Linked DNA regions of Homo sapiens: region 1 is linked to region 2. Evidence: fine-mapped expression QTL. A gene starts in region 2. The other region holds a variant in brackets. All regions are shown on one strand. Distances are between the middles of the regions. Region 1 holds the start of LOC105376384 (a long non-coding RNA gene). Region 2 holds the start of IL15RA (interleukin 15 receptor subunit alpha).

The links.
Region 1: its variant is fine-mapped to the expression of IL15RA in whole blood (TOPMed, PIP above 0.99). The same link has a PIP of 0.9 or more in neutrophils.

Annotation. Positions count from the first base shown.
Region 1 is chr10:5,941,695-5,949,980 of GRCh38, forward strand. LOC105376384 (a long non-coding RNA gene) reads right to left here and starts at 4,220. Exons shown (of 2, transcript NR_188180.1): 1 at 3,961-4,220. It also overlaps a transcript of IL15RA not described here. RefSeq lists an enhancer at 3,421-3,979. The variant G/A (reference allele first, on the strand shown) is at 4,562.
Region 2 is chr10:5,973,844-5,982,124 of GRCh38, forward strand. IL15RA (interleukin 15 receptor subunit alpha) reads right to left here and starts at 3,700. Exons shown (of 7, transcript NM_002189.4): 1 at 3,562-3,700. The coding sequence starts at 3,649. It overlaps LOC107984200 (a long non-coding RNA gene), which reads left to right. Exons shown (of 3, transcript XR_001747348.2): 3 at 1-221. RefSeq lists enhancers at 1,954-2,223, 2,354-2,433 and silencers at 3,324-3,703, 3,794-4,463, 7,843-8,137.

The DNA.
Region 1 (8,286 bases), 32 kb before region 2:
TGAGGGCAGAGACGTCGCATGGTGGACTCAGACACAGCTTAATAAACTTAAGGCAGTGCAGCACCCCCGTGGGACCTTCCTGCCTGGGAAGCTGGTCACTGTCACGCTGCCTGCCCAGCTTCCGTCCTGTAGTGGCATTTGGTCTGTGTCTGGGAGCAACTCACTGTATCACAAAGGGACTTTGACACCCCTAGAATCAGACTATTAGCAATTTAACATGTTTTTCAAGTCTGATCCTTGCCCTTCAGTCCTTCCTAGTCACCCTGAACCCCTGGCTTTAGCAATGTGGGGTACACCGAGAGCCTGGAAGCTGATCACTCTACATTTGCAGTGAGTGGGTGCGGTAGAGACGTCTGAACCGAGGCAGGCAGGGTTCCTCCAGCTCCTTGCCCAGACATGAAGACAGTGCTACACGCACGCCCCTGGCCAAGGCACCTCTGCACAGCTGGGCTGGTGTGGGGGGCAGGGCTCCCTTAGCCGGCAGGGGCTCTCCCTCTGCCTGGCCTACTTAAGGGACAGGTTCTCCATGAGGGCCCAGGAGGTGCCGTCCCCTGCGATCCTCCTCACTGGGGACCTGTGTGTGTTTTATCCCTAGTGGCGTGGGCTGAGAGGTAGGTTAGGTGGAGGGAGGGGGGCTTCCCACTCAAACGCCAAGGTCGCCAGTCGATCACTCCATTTGCTGTCTTCGTGACATCTCAGCCCTGCCATGTCCCACATGCAGCCCCTGATTTCCTTCCGAGCCTGGCTGGCTCCTCCACGCACCCTTCCCCACCTCCAGAAACAGCACCACCATCGGGCTGTGATACTTTTCTTCATGCCAGTTCACTGGGAAGCTCCACGCGGCCTCCAGGGTGCACCACCCACCCGCCCGCGACCCTCCACCGTTCTGCCTCCTGGACCAGTTGTAGTCTATGTTGCTCTGTGCCTCTGCCCTGGCCCAACTCGCTCCCATGTAGAGGGACCTGCAATCTTACAATGAAGACTAACGCCGGTCACCCTCCTGCCTCAACCCTGCAGGGCTCTCCTGTTGCGATGAGGGCGTCAGCCCAAGTTGGACCGCAGCGGAAAGGCTGGCGTTTCCTGTCCATTTCCAGGCTGGCCTCTGTCACCCTAAGCCTGTCTTTTAAAGGAACTCACTGAGGGCCCCAGGAAGCGGCCAGCACAGTGCTGACATCCTGGATTTTTCTTTTCTTCCTTTTTTAAATGTACAATTCAGTGGTTCTGATTTTTTTTTCTTTTCTTTTTTTTTTTTTTTTTTGAGACAGAGCCTCACTCTGTCACCCAGCCTGGAGTGCAGTGGTGAGATCTCCGCTCACTGCAACCTCTGCCTCCCGGGTTCAAGCGATTCTCCTGTCTCAGCCTCCCAAGTAGCTGGAATTACAAGCATATGTGACCACAACCAGCTAATTTTTGTATTTTTGGTAGAGACGGGGTTTCACCATGTCGGCCAGGCTGGTCTTGAACTCCTGACCTCAGGTGATCCACCTGCCTCAGCCTCCCAAAGTGCTGGGATTACAGGCGTGAGCCACTATGCCTGGCCTGAATTTTTTATTTTTTTTAAAGTAATCATTTTCCTAATACATGTCTTCCTAATCTGGACCCCACAGATTAAGAAATGCTTTAGTTTTTAATACCCATGGTATATTCTACTACCACTATGTGAAGAGTTGCAGTTAGAACTCTTCCAAAAGATCACATTAAAAAAAAAAATAGCATCAGCCTTTGGAGTCCAGGATGAACAATAAAATAAAAAATAAGTAGCATGGAGGTCACATGGAGAGAGCTTCACCAAGAATTGGCGACACCTGGTGACAGGTAACACTTTAATCAGCCTCACACACACATAATGGGGTCGGTCCCGCGTCCTCAGCCAGCTCCACGTATTTTAGAGTCTCTTACAACATCCCCACTTAATTGGCTGTGAGTGGCCCCAGAGCAAGGCTCTCAGGGGCGGGAAGCAGAAAGTGCTGATTCCACGGGCGTGCGGAGGAGGCTGGTGGCAGGGGCTCGGCTCAGCTGCTCCCAGGCATTCCTTCCTCCCCTGCTCATGTTCGGTGCCTCAGCGTCGCCGGGCAGGCTTCTCTTGGCCAGCCACCTGCAGGGCAGTGTCACGGGAGGCAAGGGAAGGGTAGGCTGGTCTTCTGTGTCTCTTAGGAGTGTGGCAGGCCGGGTCTCTCTTAGCAACCAGAGCAGCCAGCCTCACCAACACCTTACTATAACTCTGAGGAATATATAAATTAAACGAGGAAAATTGGAGAAACTGGTGCCTTAATACAAAGGCTAGAGTGTAAAAACAAGTCGATTAAGACCCCACCTGGGCTTTCTCCCAGACCTTAGAGTTTAATTAAAATAATGGAGGCGTTCTTGTGGACCTTGTACCATGATCCACTTTAAATTAAGTAATTGGGCCAGGAGCAGCGGCTCACGCCCGCAATCCCAGCACTTTGGGAGGCTGAGGGAGGAGGGTCGCTTGAGCCCAGGAGTTCAAGACCAGCCTGGGCAACATAGTGAGACCCTCCCTCTAAAATAAGAAAGAAAAAAAATGAAGTAATTGTTTCAAGGCTCTGAAGTAATTTTCCAGACCCCAGACCCTAGTGAAAGATTAAACAGAGGAATATACTTCAGCTTGGAGGTGTACTCCTGCACATAGGCATATGGTTTAAATGTGTATAAGCACTGAAAAAAAACTTATAATTTTAAATTAGTCTGGTGAGTTACTCTGACCTTCTCCCTGTAACCAGAAATAAACTCCCTTCTTCCCCACTCTGTCTGCAGCTTGTTATTGGACCATGAGAACAAGCAGCTGGACCTGGTTTTGTCTGGGAAGAGGCGCAAGAAAGCCTTTCCCACAGGCTTCTCCAGCTGACTCACATATTGTTGGTCAGAACTGGGCTACCTGCCCACTCCTAAGCCAATCATAGTAAGGAAGAATGGCTTCAAATCATCAGGGTTTTATTTCCTGGAGCTTGGGATGAGGTCAGCTTTCCATGATGCACACGGCTGGGTGAAATAATAAATCCTAAAAAAGTGGGAATGTATTTGCGAAGGAAGGGGCAGGTGCTGATTACCATGTAAGTAAATATACCTCATTAAGGAAGTGAACTCAACGTTTATTAGGAGCCTCCTGCAGGTAGACGCTATCAGGCCTTTGTGTATGTGAATTCCTTCAGTCCTCACAGCAAACCTGGGAGGCAGATGACAGCCGCCATTTGCAGATGAAGAAACAGGCTCTAAAGAGTCACGGGGCTGGGCCCACTGTGCTCAGTATCACAGAGCAGAGCTTGGATGAAAACTCAAGTTCAATCCCAAACCCATAGTATTTCCACTACCACTGTGTGAAGAGTTGGAGTTAGAACTCTTCCAAAAGATCAGTTTGTTTGTTTTTTTAAAGCATCTGCCTATGGAGTCCAGGATGAACAATAAAATAAATATTTAATAGCATGGAAGGCTTTCAGATGTTCTTAGCCATGGAATTCTTTAGGCTTAATTTTACTTCCAGTTAACAAATGCAGCCGCTGTGGTCACTCAGGAGGGGGATGGGCACCCAGAGTTCCTTCTCCGCTCCCGCCTGTGGTGGCCCCTCAGGTGCCTCTGCAGCCACCAGGGCTTCCCAGAACACTTGGAAAACACCTGCAGCCACTGCAGCCCCGGGACACTGACAGCAATTTGAGTACCCTCTGGGTGGCATTAACTCCAAGGAGATTTTGAAGATTACACCCCATTTTTGAATTATTTTGGAGACAAGAGTCCCACTCTGTCGCCCAGGCTGGAGCGCAGTGACGCGATCACCGCTCACTGCAGCCTCATGCTCCTGGGCTCAAGCGATCCTCCCACCTCAGATTCCTGAGTAGCTGGGACCCTAGGTGAGCCATGGCACCCAGTTATACACTTCTGTAACTAGGACTGTTGGCTCTCTGCCCAGAGGAATGAAGACACAGCTTCAGAAAGAGAAGCACTAACCTTCATGGTGAGGGCGTCCACCAGGAGGGAGTGGTTTTGCCAAGCGGGGACTTGAGGCAGACGGCCCAAGTTTCACCAACTGTGTTCAATCCTACGGGACCCTTGCTCTTTTTCAGTTTCATTTTCCTTCCAGTTACTGAGCAGCCCTCCCAGGACCCGAGGATGCAGGGCATGCAGGGGCGGCGCAGTGCTTCCCCGGCCAACCCCTGCCTTGCCGTCCGGTTGACCTGGCTGCCCAGCAGCCATGCTCTGTCTTTCCTGAACGTGTTGCTCAATTTCCTGTTTGGGTTTTTGCCTCCACCGCCCCCCCCCACCATTTAGAATGCTCCCTGCCCGTTTATTTAAATTCCACCCATCCTTCCAACTCACATCCTGCATTCCTCAAGCTTCCAGGCCTTGGAGCCATTTCTGCCTTTACTGGGCTCGTGTCCCATTAGTGTGTGTGCTTGTGGTGTAAGGTTTTGTTTCATATTTGTTCCGGTATGCTTCTCTTTTTGACCAGGCTGTAAACTTCTTGAGGATTAGTACCAGGCTTAACTGTCAGGATCTCTAGTGGCTAGCGAGGGGAGAGACAGACGCCAGGGTCTCCTGTGACCCTCAC[G/A]CCTCTGGGAAGGGAGTGCATGTGCCGTCATCCCCACTACAAAGATGAGGCAATGTCCGTGTGTGTAGTGTCTCCAAGTGACAGGGCCAGCAAAGGGTAGAATGGATGCTCAGCAAAGGGTAGAATGGATGCTCGACACTCAGGCTTTTAAGTTCTATCTTCTTTCCACTGCACAAAGATAGTATTTTGCAGATGCCACATGAATAGCACCGATAATAAGTGTTATGAAGGCTCAGAGGCAAATGATTTTGTACAACTGAGTCATTAGCCAAGGCTCCGGGGCTGGGCATGGTGGCTCACGCCTGTAGTCCCAGCACTATGGGAGGCCAAGGCGGGTGGATCACTTGAGATCAGGAGTTCCAGATCAGCCTGGACAACATGGCGAAACCCTGTCTCTATCAAAAATATAAAAATTAGCTGGGCATGGTGGCACGCACCTGTAGTCCCAGCTACTCAGGAAGCTGAGGCAGGAGAATCGCTTGAACTCGGGAGGCGGAGGTTGCAGTGAGTGGAGATCGTGCCACTGCACTCCAGCCTGAGCGACAGAGCGAGACTCTGTCTCAAAAAAAAAAACCCTCCAAAACTGAAACAACAGAGGCTCCTGGAGAAGGTAAACTTGATCTGGTTCTGGAAGGTGAGTTGGATGTAGGAGACTGTGAAGGAAGGACAGGGGCATTGGGCATTGGCTACGGGCTTGGCCTGTGAGGAGGCCGCAGGTGGGACGTGGGGGTGGAGGTGCTTGCAGCAGGGCCCGGCCCAGCCTTGGGGAGCTCTTGTTTCCACGGAACAGGCTGATTCCTGGGATCCTGAGGGTCTGATTGGGATTCTCAGCAAAGTTTTCTCCCCATGCAGAATGGGACAGGGGGAGGAAATTGTCAGCAGAACAGACTTCCTTTTGCAAGATGCCCCCCTCGAGCAGGAGGCAATGTTGCAGCATTGTCAGGCAGAACAGAGGGCTGCTTCTGAGGACAAGGGAGGGTGGGGGATCCTGTGAGTCCTCCAAATGTCCCCCTACATTTTTAATCCAGTACAGGAACCTCGCCCTTCTCCAATCAGTGCTCTCCCTTCAGCTGGGAAACCTGCTGGGGCCATGGATTCAGCTAATGTTCTTCCAACAACTTGACGGCTTAGACTGTTGTTTTTTTTTGGAGACTGTGTCTCCTCTGTCATCCAGGCTGGAGTGCTGTGGCATGATCTCGGCTCACTGCTACCTCCTGGGCTCAAGCAGTTCTCCCACCTCAGCCTCTTGAGTAGCTGGGACTACAGGCACATGCCACCACAACTGGCTAATTTTTGTATTTTTTGTAGAGACAGGGGTTTCGCCATGTTGTTTGGGCTGGTCTTGAACTCCTGGACTCAAGCGATCCACCTGCCTCGGCCTCCCAAAGTGTTTGGATTACAGGCATGAGCCACGGCGCCCAGCCAAAGGCTCAGACTCTTAAGATGGGTTTTCAGATATCCTGGCCTCGCATCTGTAAGGAATGAAATTCCGCGTTGTTCTAGGCAGTCTTTAGGTTTCAGCCTGTGGCTTGAATTCAGACTTTAGAGATTTGAACTTCTTATTCTCTAAGTTTTTCAGTGACATTAAAAGCAGCTACCCACTATGGGCTCAGATTTCTCATATCCATACGATTTCAGGATGGACGCAACATAGTCTCTGAGAGCCAGGCTTGCAGCAGGCATGACATCCCAGGCACCTCCTGGCGAACTAATTACCGAATTCCCTGGGCCGCTCCATTCCTGTCTCTGCATATCATCAGAACATTCACTCTTTTCTCTCGTCCCTAAGGCAGATAACCAGCCGCAGACACTCCTTATCTCCCCTCTTCTCCATAATTTGCAATACCCACTCCTGGTACCGAATTTCATATCAGCTAGGAACTTTTCAGTGACAAGTAATGAAAACAGAATCTGTTATAAAGAAAAAAAAATGTATTGGAAAGATACGAGGGGCTCATAGAATCCCGGAAAATGGGAGGCTTAGGTTTGGAATATGGTTAGGACCTAAAGACGCCTGGAGAGCCCAGAACAGGAGGCCCAGCAGCCAGTCAGAGCTTCTGAGGCCACTGCTGGCCACTGCCCTGTGAGTTCTGTGCTCTTCATTCTCTGTATTCAACAGCTTTGTAGTCTAGCTGAGAGGCCCTGGAGGCCACGCCCAGGCCAGGTGCCCACGCGTGGGGAGAGCAGGGAGAGGGGAGGTCAGCCCGTCTGTGTCAGTGGGTGATGAGGCACCCCAACAGGATGGAGGAGCCCCAGTGGAATTCTGCATTCCCATTCTTTCTCCTCCTTTGTGTGGAACATTTCTCCTTGGTGATTTTTTTTTTTTTTTTGAATTGGAGTCTCGCTGCGTCTCTCAGGCTGGAGTGCAGGGGTATGATCTCGGCTCACTGCAACCTCCACCCCCAGAGTTCAAGTGATTCTCCTGCCTCAGCCTCCCAAATAGCTGGGATTACAGACGCTCACCACCACGCCAGGCTAATTTTTGTGTTTTTAGTAGAGATGGGGTTTCACCATGTTGGCCAGGCTGGTCTCAATTTCCTGACCTCAGGTGATCCACCCGCCTCGGCCTCCCAAAGTACTGGGATTACAGGCATGAGCCACCCTGCCCGGCCATCCTTGGTGATTCTTTTAATGCATTTTAAAATATTGAAAATATATATTTTATTTTGTTTATACAAGGCACAATGTCAAAATACAAATCATATATAATGTGTAGATATAACAGACAAGGAAGTATAAATGCATATATATGTAAAATGGCGCTGAGATGAGTTTTCTTCTTCCTGAATCCTTCGATGGAGAGGATTCACTGGGCTTAGCATCTCCTCCACCTTTTCCGGCTCCCTGTCAGTGCGTGCAGCACAGCTGGAGACAGGGTCATTGGGAGGAGCCCAAACGCTGGTGTCTTCCCTATAGACATCTCCCACGCCAGGAGGAGCCTTGTAATTGACAGAGAGCCTCAGGTATGTCACTTTTCTCTGTGAGCTGCAAGTCAGGATGAGGGACGGACGGTTTCAGGAGAGGAGGAGGTGTTTCATCCTGAATAGCTAAGAACAGCACCACTAGAATGGGTGGATTTACAGTCACTTAGGGAAGTAAAGTGTCAATTAAATCCCCCGGTAATATAGTGCCTAATATTACCTAAAATATGCACACATTGAGTTCTGATTAGTGCCTAGCAGTGTGAGGTGGGGGAGGCTGTGATTTGGGTCGGGCTGGTCCTGCCTGCAAGGAGCACAGCCCTGGGGTGAGACAAACCCGCAGTACTCGGGGAGTCCGCTCTGTGCTGTGAAATTCCAAGCCAGGAGGTGGCAGCCTCAGCCAAGAGGAAGAAGTCCTTGGGGAACAGGGGGGTGAGCAGTGAGAAACAGGGTGTCTTTTGATCCCTGCTCTCCCACTTCCTAATGTCTGAAGAAGGGTTTAAACGGGGAAAGTCACACCACAAGATATATTTTAAAAAGTTAGGCAGGAAGAAAATGGAAATCTGCATCTATACAAGGGAATAAAGAACGTAAGTGGTTTTAAAAAAGTGGTGGGGGGAGTTAAGAGTCTTATTTCTTGCCAGGCACGGTGGCTCAAGCCTGTAATCCCAGCACTTTGGAGGCTGAGGCGGTTGGATCACCTGAGGTCAGGAGTTCGAGACCAGCCTGGCCAACATGGTGAAACACTGTCTCTGCCAAAAATACAAAAATTAGCCAGGTGTGGTGGTGTACGCTTGTAATCCC
Region 2 (8,281 bases):
TTCTGCTTTTCAAAAGACACTGCTAAGAGAAAGGATAAGCCACAGAATCTGAGAAAATATTTGCAAATCATATACCTGATTAGGGCCTCGTATCCAGAATATATAAAGAACTCTCAAAATTCAGTAATGATACAATTCAATTTTTTATACATAAGACAGAGTCAGAAAAAAAAAAAAAGACAGTCTCGCTCTGTGTCCCAGGCTGGAGTGCAGTGGCGCGATCTCTGCTCACCGCAACCTCTGCCTCCAGGGTTCAAGCGATTCTCCTGCCTCAGCCTCCTGAGTAGCTGACATTACAGGCATGGGCTACCACAGCTGGCTAATTTTTGTATTTTTAGTAGAGAAGGGGTTTTACCATGTTGACCTGGCTGGTCTCGAACTCCTGGCCTCAAGTGATCTGCCCGCGTTGGCCTCCCAAAGTGCTGGGATTACAGGTGTGAGCCACCACACCCAGCTGATACAATTCAATTTTTAAGAGAGCAAAAAAAATATAAACAGATACTACCAGAGAAGATATATACATGGCAAATAAGCACATAACATCACCAGCTGTAGAAAAATGCAAATTAAAACTACAAGGGGAGACCCCCTACATACCTAGTAGAATGGGTAAAATTAAAAAGATTCATCATACCAAGAGCTGACAAGGGTGTGAAGGAACTGGAACTTCCCTACACTGCTGTGGGAATGTAAAATCGTATAACAACTTTGGGAAATGGTTTAGCAGTTTCTTTAAAAATTAAACTTCTGAGGCCAGGTGCAATGGCTCACACCTGTAATCCCAGCACTTTGGGAGGCCAAAGCAGGCAGATCCCCTGAGGTCAGGAGTTCGAGACCAGCCTGGCCAACATGGTGAAACCCCATCTCTACTAAAAATACAAAAATTAGCCGGGCGTAGTGGTGCAAGCCTGTAGTCCCAGCTACTCAGGAGGCTGAGGCAGGAGAATCGCTTGAACCCAGGAGGCAGAGGTTTCAGTGAGCAGAGATGGAGCCACTGCACTTCAGTCTGGGCAACAGAGTGAGATTCTGTCTCAAAATAAGTAAATTAAAAATAAATAAAAATTAAAAATAAATAAATAAAAATTAAAAATTAAACACCTGAGAGGTCAAGGCTGCAGTGAGCTATAATCATGCTACTGCACTCCAGCTTGGGAAACAATGGTGTGACATTGTTTCAAAAAAAAAAAAATTAAACATACACCTGCCATATAACACAGCCACTCTACTCCCAACCATTCTCTACCCATGAGAAATGAAAACATGTGTCCATACAGAAACCTGTATGTCAGTGTTCATAGCAGCTTTCTTTGTAATAGTCCCAAACTGGAAACAACCCAAATGTCCCTTAACAAGTGAATGGCTAAACAAATGATGGGCTAGCCATGGGTAGAATACTACTACTCAATGGTAGAAACTAATGAACTACTTATACAAATTACAACATGGATAAATTCTCAGGATAATTACTGTCTGTGAAAAAAGCCAAACAAGAAAGAGTTCCTACCGTGTAATTCTATTTATAAAAAATTTTAGAAAGTGCATCAAATTGCCTGGGAGATGGGCGAGGTGGGAGATGAGGACTGTGCAGGGCATGAGGAAGTCTTTGGGAGTGATAGTTGTGTTCACTCTTGGTGGTGGCAGTGGTTTCATGAGTATGTATGCATTTACCTCCAAACTTATCAAAGTGTGCAACTTCAATATATGCAGTTTATTGTCGGTCAATTATACCTCAATAAGGCTGTTAAAGGGAAAAAAAACAACGGCTGGGCAAGCTGGCTCACGCCTGTAATCCCAGCACTTTGGAAGGCCGAGGCGGGCAGATCACAAGGTCAGGAGTGATCACCATGTTGGATCAGCCTGACCAACATGATGAAACCCCGTCTCTATTAAAAACACAAAAGTTACTGGGCGTGGTGGCGATCGCCTGTAATCCCAGCTACTCAGGAGGCTGAGGCAGCAGAATCGCTTGAACCCAGGAGGCGGAGGTTGCAGTGAGCTGAGATCGCGCTACTGCACCCCAGCCGGGGTGACAGAGTGAGACTCCGTCTCAAAAAAGAAAACAAGAAAGAAAGAAAAAGAAAAAGAAAAAACATTGAGAGCTTTGGGAAGGGAAGGTAGCAACATCTTTCTAAGGTCAAAGGGCAAGGCTGTGCAGCTGATGAGATCAGAGATCTCACAGTGGTGCTCCCCTATCCACTCAGTCTTCAAGGAAGACACCTCCTCTCTGCTGGGCTTTGACTAAGGCTGCATTTCACTTTCATATTGTGTAATCCAGCTGCCCCAGTTGCCAGCTATGGGGTCCTGTGACACTGCTAGCCAACTGGGAGGAACCAACCGGTCACCAACTAACTCTGCTTCTCAGATGTGGGGGGAAATCCAAGCATCAGAGTCTCATGAAAACGAAACTTCAAGAAGCCTCGCAGAGCTGGGGTGGGGGTGGCAGAGGGTGGGGGGGCGTTCAGGCCACACCAGGCAGCAGCAACTGTGCGTGGAATGGCTTTGGCCAGGGCCTGGGCAGACTGGCCCGACTGGATGTAAATTATTCAGGGTCTCGCTTAAAAACACACACAGATCATGGCGTTACTAATTCCTATAGAGAGTCCATGGATGGCCTTCAGTGGGGCTTTGACCCCAAAATCATATGCACATTTTGTAACTATGTTCATTCATGCATTTTTCTGGGGGCCGGGGGTTCATAGCTTTCATCAGACCCTCCAAGAGCTCCCTGACTATAAAAAGATAAAGAAGCGCTGACAAGGATAGAGCTAGACCCTGCTACTGTTTTCCTCCTTCCTCTGGCTGCCGGGACAAAACCCCTAGGAATCGCTCATTCCGTCCTCCCTGCCGAGATCAGAGCTCCGCGACCCGCTTTCTTCTCGAATACACCAAGCGATCACAGATCTCTTCCCCCTTTTTCTGCGAGTGTAGACTCCAGGCTGGCCCCCACTCCCCACCCCCATCCGGTCCCGACCGCCTCTGCTGGTTTCCTGATCGCTTAAGAATTGGAAGTTGTTTCCAGGTCCCCAGGTGTGCAACTTGCCCGACGCGTTTCCCCCTGGGACACAGCTCCTCCCCACCCTCCCAGCTCCCACTGACATAATTTACTTTTGCCTGGGAGTCGGGAGGAGTAGTTTCTCCCGGACCCCTCCGAGGACCGCGTGCTATGCAACACCCGCCCTGCAGTCCAGGCGCCTGGGAGAAGCGCACTCGCCCGTGTCTCCAAACTGCTGGACGCCGCCGGCTCCGCGCTCCCGTGGCCAAAACGGGCTTCTCAGAACTGCTCCTGACCTCGGCCTCGGAGACCCCAGCCAGGCCGCCCGCTCCCTTACGTGGGTGACCCGGGCGCAGCGGCGGCGCTCTCCCTGCGACCCCGGCTCCCGGCACGTGTCCCTCCTGCCCGGCGCCGCGTCCCCTCCCCGGCCTGGGCCTGCGCGCACCGCGCTCCCGAGGGCACCGACGCCCCCGCACGGCCCGGGGAGATGGGGCGCCCGGTTCCCTCCAGCTCCACGTCCCGGCCCCCTTCCAAGTCCCGCCCGGGCGCCCCTGCTCCCAGCTCCCTACCCCGCGTCGCCGGCGGCCGGAGCAGCAGCAGCAGTAGCAGCGCCGGGAGACCGAGGGTCCGGCAGCCGCGCGCCCGCCGCGGGGCCATGGCGGCAGCTCCACAGGACACCGCTGGACTCCCCGGGCGAGCGCTGCCCAGGCCGGGGGGAGGTGGCGAGCGCTGCTCTGGGACCTGCCGCCCCGCCAGTCGCATTCGCTTTCGCTTTTGCTTTGGCCCCCGAGGGCTCGGAGAGGTGCAAAGCGGTGACAGATCCGTGACTCAGCGTCCCCACCCCTGCTGGGGAAGGAGCCCCGCCGGCCGCCGCGGCACCGCACAGCCACCCCTGTCCCCGGGACGCATGGGCCGTGCCCGGTGGGGACCCAGGACCTTACCCACGCAAGCCCGGGAGCCTCCCGGTCCTCCGCGCTCGTCGTGCTCTGGGACCTCCAGTGTGCACTCGGTCCGGTGTCCCCACTGCGAAGAGAGTGGGCAAAGTCATCGGAGAGCAGACTCTCTCCAGCCCTCTCTGCGGCTCGGATCCACTTGACCTCGCCCGGCGCTGGTCGCCTCCAGCTGCTCCGCCTTCGGCTTTCCTGGTCTCCCTCCGCGGCCCTGCGCTCGGTTGTGAGCGGCCGGCCTGGGTGAGTGCCCGCGGAGGTGTCGCCGCGGTGCGGAGGCGCGGGCACCTGCCTGGTGCGCTCTGGCCCGGGCGGAGCGCAGCCCCCGCCACCTGCTGGCTCCCGCGGCCCCCGGCGCCCGCTGGGGCCCCAGCTCCGCCACTTCGCCGAATTCCTGCTGCAGCTTTGCTCCCCTAGAAAATGCCTCATCTTAGAAGGAGAGGGGGCGGAGGGGGGAGAAGGGGGAGAGGAGCCACAGTGCTTCACCTCTGAGCCTCGCTTCCTTAGGTTCTTCCAGGCTGCCATCCTCCTCTTTGGCTGGTGGGTTTTTTTCTTTCTTGGGGTCTCAAGTGAAGCCTGAGAACCGGGTCTGTAAGCTCCCAAGTGCAGATTCTCAGGTCTAGCGGTGACATTGGACAGGACGAGACATCTCCAAGCCTCGGTCATTGCCTCTTAAAATCTCACAACGTGTTTATGAGGCTTTTGTGACATACTTGCAAATTCTCTTTGAAAACGAAATAATCTGTACAATAATCCCCCAAGACACAGGTTTACCTTTATAACAAACCTGCACTTATAACCCTGAACTTAAAAGTTAAATAAAAGAATTTAGGGCCGAGCGCGGTGGCCACTCCTGAAATCCAAGCACTTTCGGAGGCCAAGGCAGGTGGATCGCCTGAAGTCAGGAATTCGAGACTAGCCTGGCCAACATGGTGAAACCCCATCTCTACTAAAAATACCAAAATTAGCTGGGCATGGTGGCGGGCGCCTGTAATCCCAGCTATTCAGGAGGCTGAGGCAGGAGAATCACTTGAACCCAGGAGGCTGAGGTTGCAGTGAGCTGAGATCGCACCACTGCACTCCAGCCTGGGCAACACAGCCAGTTCCTGTCTCTTAAATTTAAAAAAAAAAAGTAGAAAGAATAATGAACCTACCATCCGGCAGTGACCACACAAGGTCCATTCTTTTTTTCTAAGCAGGAATAGCCACCCTTACTCCAACTGGGGAAATCCCACATTATTCAATTTCTCTCAATACTTAATAATAAATCTCAAGATGATAAGATCAAATTTAAAAATTAACAATATTCCTTAATATTCTCAAATATATTGAGGGTTTATTGAATGCAGGCTAAGCATAGCATGTATACAATAGAGCATTTTTTATTCTATGGACATTTATGAAGTAGAGATTTCTCCATTATTACAGACTCTTTGTAAAAGTTTTTAATGGCTGCAAATTATCATAGTTTAACATCCCCTCTATTATTTTAATATTAAAGATAACATTGTCATAAATGTCTTTCTACAAAATCTTGTGAATTTAAGATCGCTTAGAATAGATTTCCTACAGTGGAACTATTGAGTCAACTGGTAGGGAATATTTTTAAAGGCTTTTTCTCTTTTAAACAAATATTTCTATCTTGCTTTCCAAAAGTCTTGTATCAATATACCTTCTAACTAGCATTGATTGTGTTAAAGTACCCATTTTACTGCATTCTGACCAAAAGTAAATTTTAAAATTTGAAAATAAAATTGTAAATTTGGTATGCTTAAAGAACTCTATTTCATTACATATATATACGTTGTTAAATAATGTAAATTTCAAATATACTTCGAACTATAGCAATCAATAAATATAGTGGATATCCATGAGCCTACTGCCTCATCCTGTCAAAACTTAATATGTCTGCTCAATGTTTGCTTCAGATATTTTTTGGAATAAAAAAATTACAGATAAAGTTGAAGCCCCTTTGTATTCTTGCATCTTTCTCTTCCTCCGTCTTCCACTTTCTCGCAGGTAAATGTTTCTTGAAACTGGTACTCATCATTCCCAGGCATTCTTAGGCCCCTTTTCCATGTGTATGTCCATGTGCAACGGACAGGATGGCTTACATTTTTAAAAATTCATGTGATTAAGGCTGGGTGTGGTGGCTCATGACTGTAATCCCAGCACTTTGGGAGGCTGAGGTGGGCAGATCACTTGAGGTCAGGAGTTCGAGACCAGCCTGGCCTACATGGTGAAACCCCATCTCTACTAAAAATACAAAAATTAGCAGGGTGTGGTGGCACGCACCTGTAATCTCATCTACTTGGGAGGCTGAGGCATGAGAATCGCTTGAACCTGGGAGGTGGAGGATGCAGTGAGCTGAGATCACACCACTGCACTCTAGCCTGGGCGACAGAAAGAGACTCGGTCTCAAAAAAAAAAAAAAAAAATTCATATGAACAGTACCATACAGATTGAGCACCCCTGATCTCCAAATCCCAAATCCAAAATGGTCCAAAATCCAAAACTTTTTGAGCTCTGACATTACGCCACAAGTGGAAAATTCCACACCTGATCTCGTGGGGTGGGTGGCAATCAAAACACAGGCACATAACACACTGTTTATTCAGCATCCCCAAGGGGAAAAAAGACTCTCCCAGCCGCCTTCAGCTGAGAGATATCTTTTCTGTGCATGCCCAGATTCCCCCATGCAAGCACGCACACAAAAGGTGGTAAAATGGCCTGTGTGCAGGTCGAACACACCCATGGTAGGTCCCGACAATTCCCCATATGGAGCCAAGCCCCGCCTCTGTGCACTTCTCACTGTGCTATTTTTGCTTATTCTCTGCTCTCTGGTCTAATGATGTTGAAAATGTTGGCCGGGTGCAGTGGCTCACGTCTGTAATCCCAGCACTTTGGGAGGCCAAGGTGGGTGGATCACTTGAGCTCAGGAGTTCGAGACCAGCCTGGGCAACACAGCACACCTATAGGTGTGCACCACCACACCTGGCTGATATTTATTTATTTCTAGAGATGAGGTCTCACTATGTTGCCAAGGCTGGTCTCACACTCCTGGCCTCAAGCCATCCTCCCACCTCAGCTTCCTGAGTAGCTGAGATTACATGTATAATCAGGGACATCTTTTCTGATTAGTCTCACAAACATTTTGGACCAGTGGCTTGTGTCACTGTAGGGAGGGTGGACTGGATGATGACTGCAAGATTTTGTTTTTCTTTGACAACCATTCTGCTCATCCTCCAGCTGAAACTCTCATTAAAAATAATGTTTATGCCATGGGCTTTCTTCCAAATGTGACTTCATTACTTCAGCCATGTGACCAGGGTATCCTTAGATCAATGGAGATCAATGGAGAGTAAATATGGAAACATTGCACGCTAGCAGCAGTGAACAGAGGGGTGGGTGTGGAAGTTTTCAAAAGGTGTTTAGCATGAAGGATGCCAATGCTGTTTCCAATGCTTGGAACTCAGTGACTAACGACACAGCCATGCGTGCATGGCACAACCTCTGGTCTGCGACTATGTTCAGTGATGATGATGAACAAGGTGATGACATGGAAGTATTCCATATGTGAAGTGGGAAAAAAATGATGTCTGACCTCCCTATGCAGGCAAAAAATATACCTTCAGAGTGTGTCAGCATGCTGGACGAAGTGGATATACAGGTTTTTAACATCTATACTGTGGCTCCAGTTGTTCGTTCATTGACCGATGATGAACAATGGCAAAACGGTTCTGAACCAAGGTGCTTGTGCTAACAGTGATGACGAACATAATGCTGTTATCACAGCAGAACACGCACCTGCAGGCGCCATGATGAAAGCATGCGATGGGCTCATTGAAGGACTAGAACGGTGGGTGTTCGAGGCAGGGTAAGCAAGATGAGGACCCTGTACCAACTTGTCCCCTTGTGCGAAGCCCTGAAGGACCCTTTTGCAGAGTCTTCTTTTGCTTGCAACTCTCCTGCGTCAGCACCTAGTGCTTTTGCAAGATAAGCTGCCCTACAAGATACCAGCAGATGGCCAGATGGTTACAAGTTGCTGCTGCCTGATTCGGCCCAGAAAAGAGAACAAAAGCCCCTTTCTCATGATGTAGCTTCTCCAATCTCCAGCCAGTCTGCACCAAAAGCCCAAGAAGCTATTAGCTACGAACTCCTGCCTTGGGGGTAGGAACTTCTCCAGGGTTCTGCACGTGCTCTAGGCTCAAGGTTTAGCTTATAGTGAACTTTTCCTTTTTTTTTTTTTTTTTTTTTGAGGCAGGGTCTCACTATGTTGCCCTGGCTGGAGTGCAGTGGCGTGATTCCATCTCACTACAGCCTTGAGCTCCCAGGCTCAGGT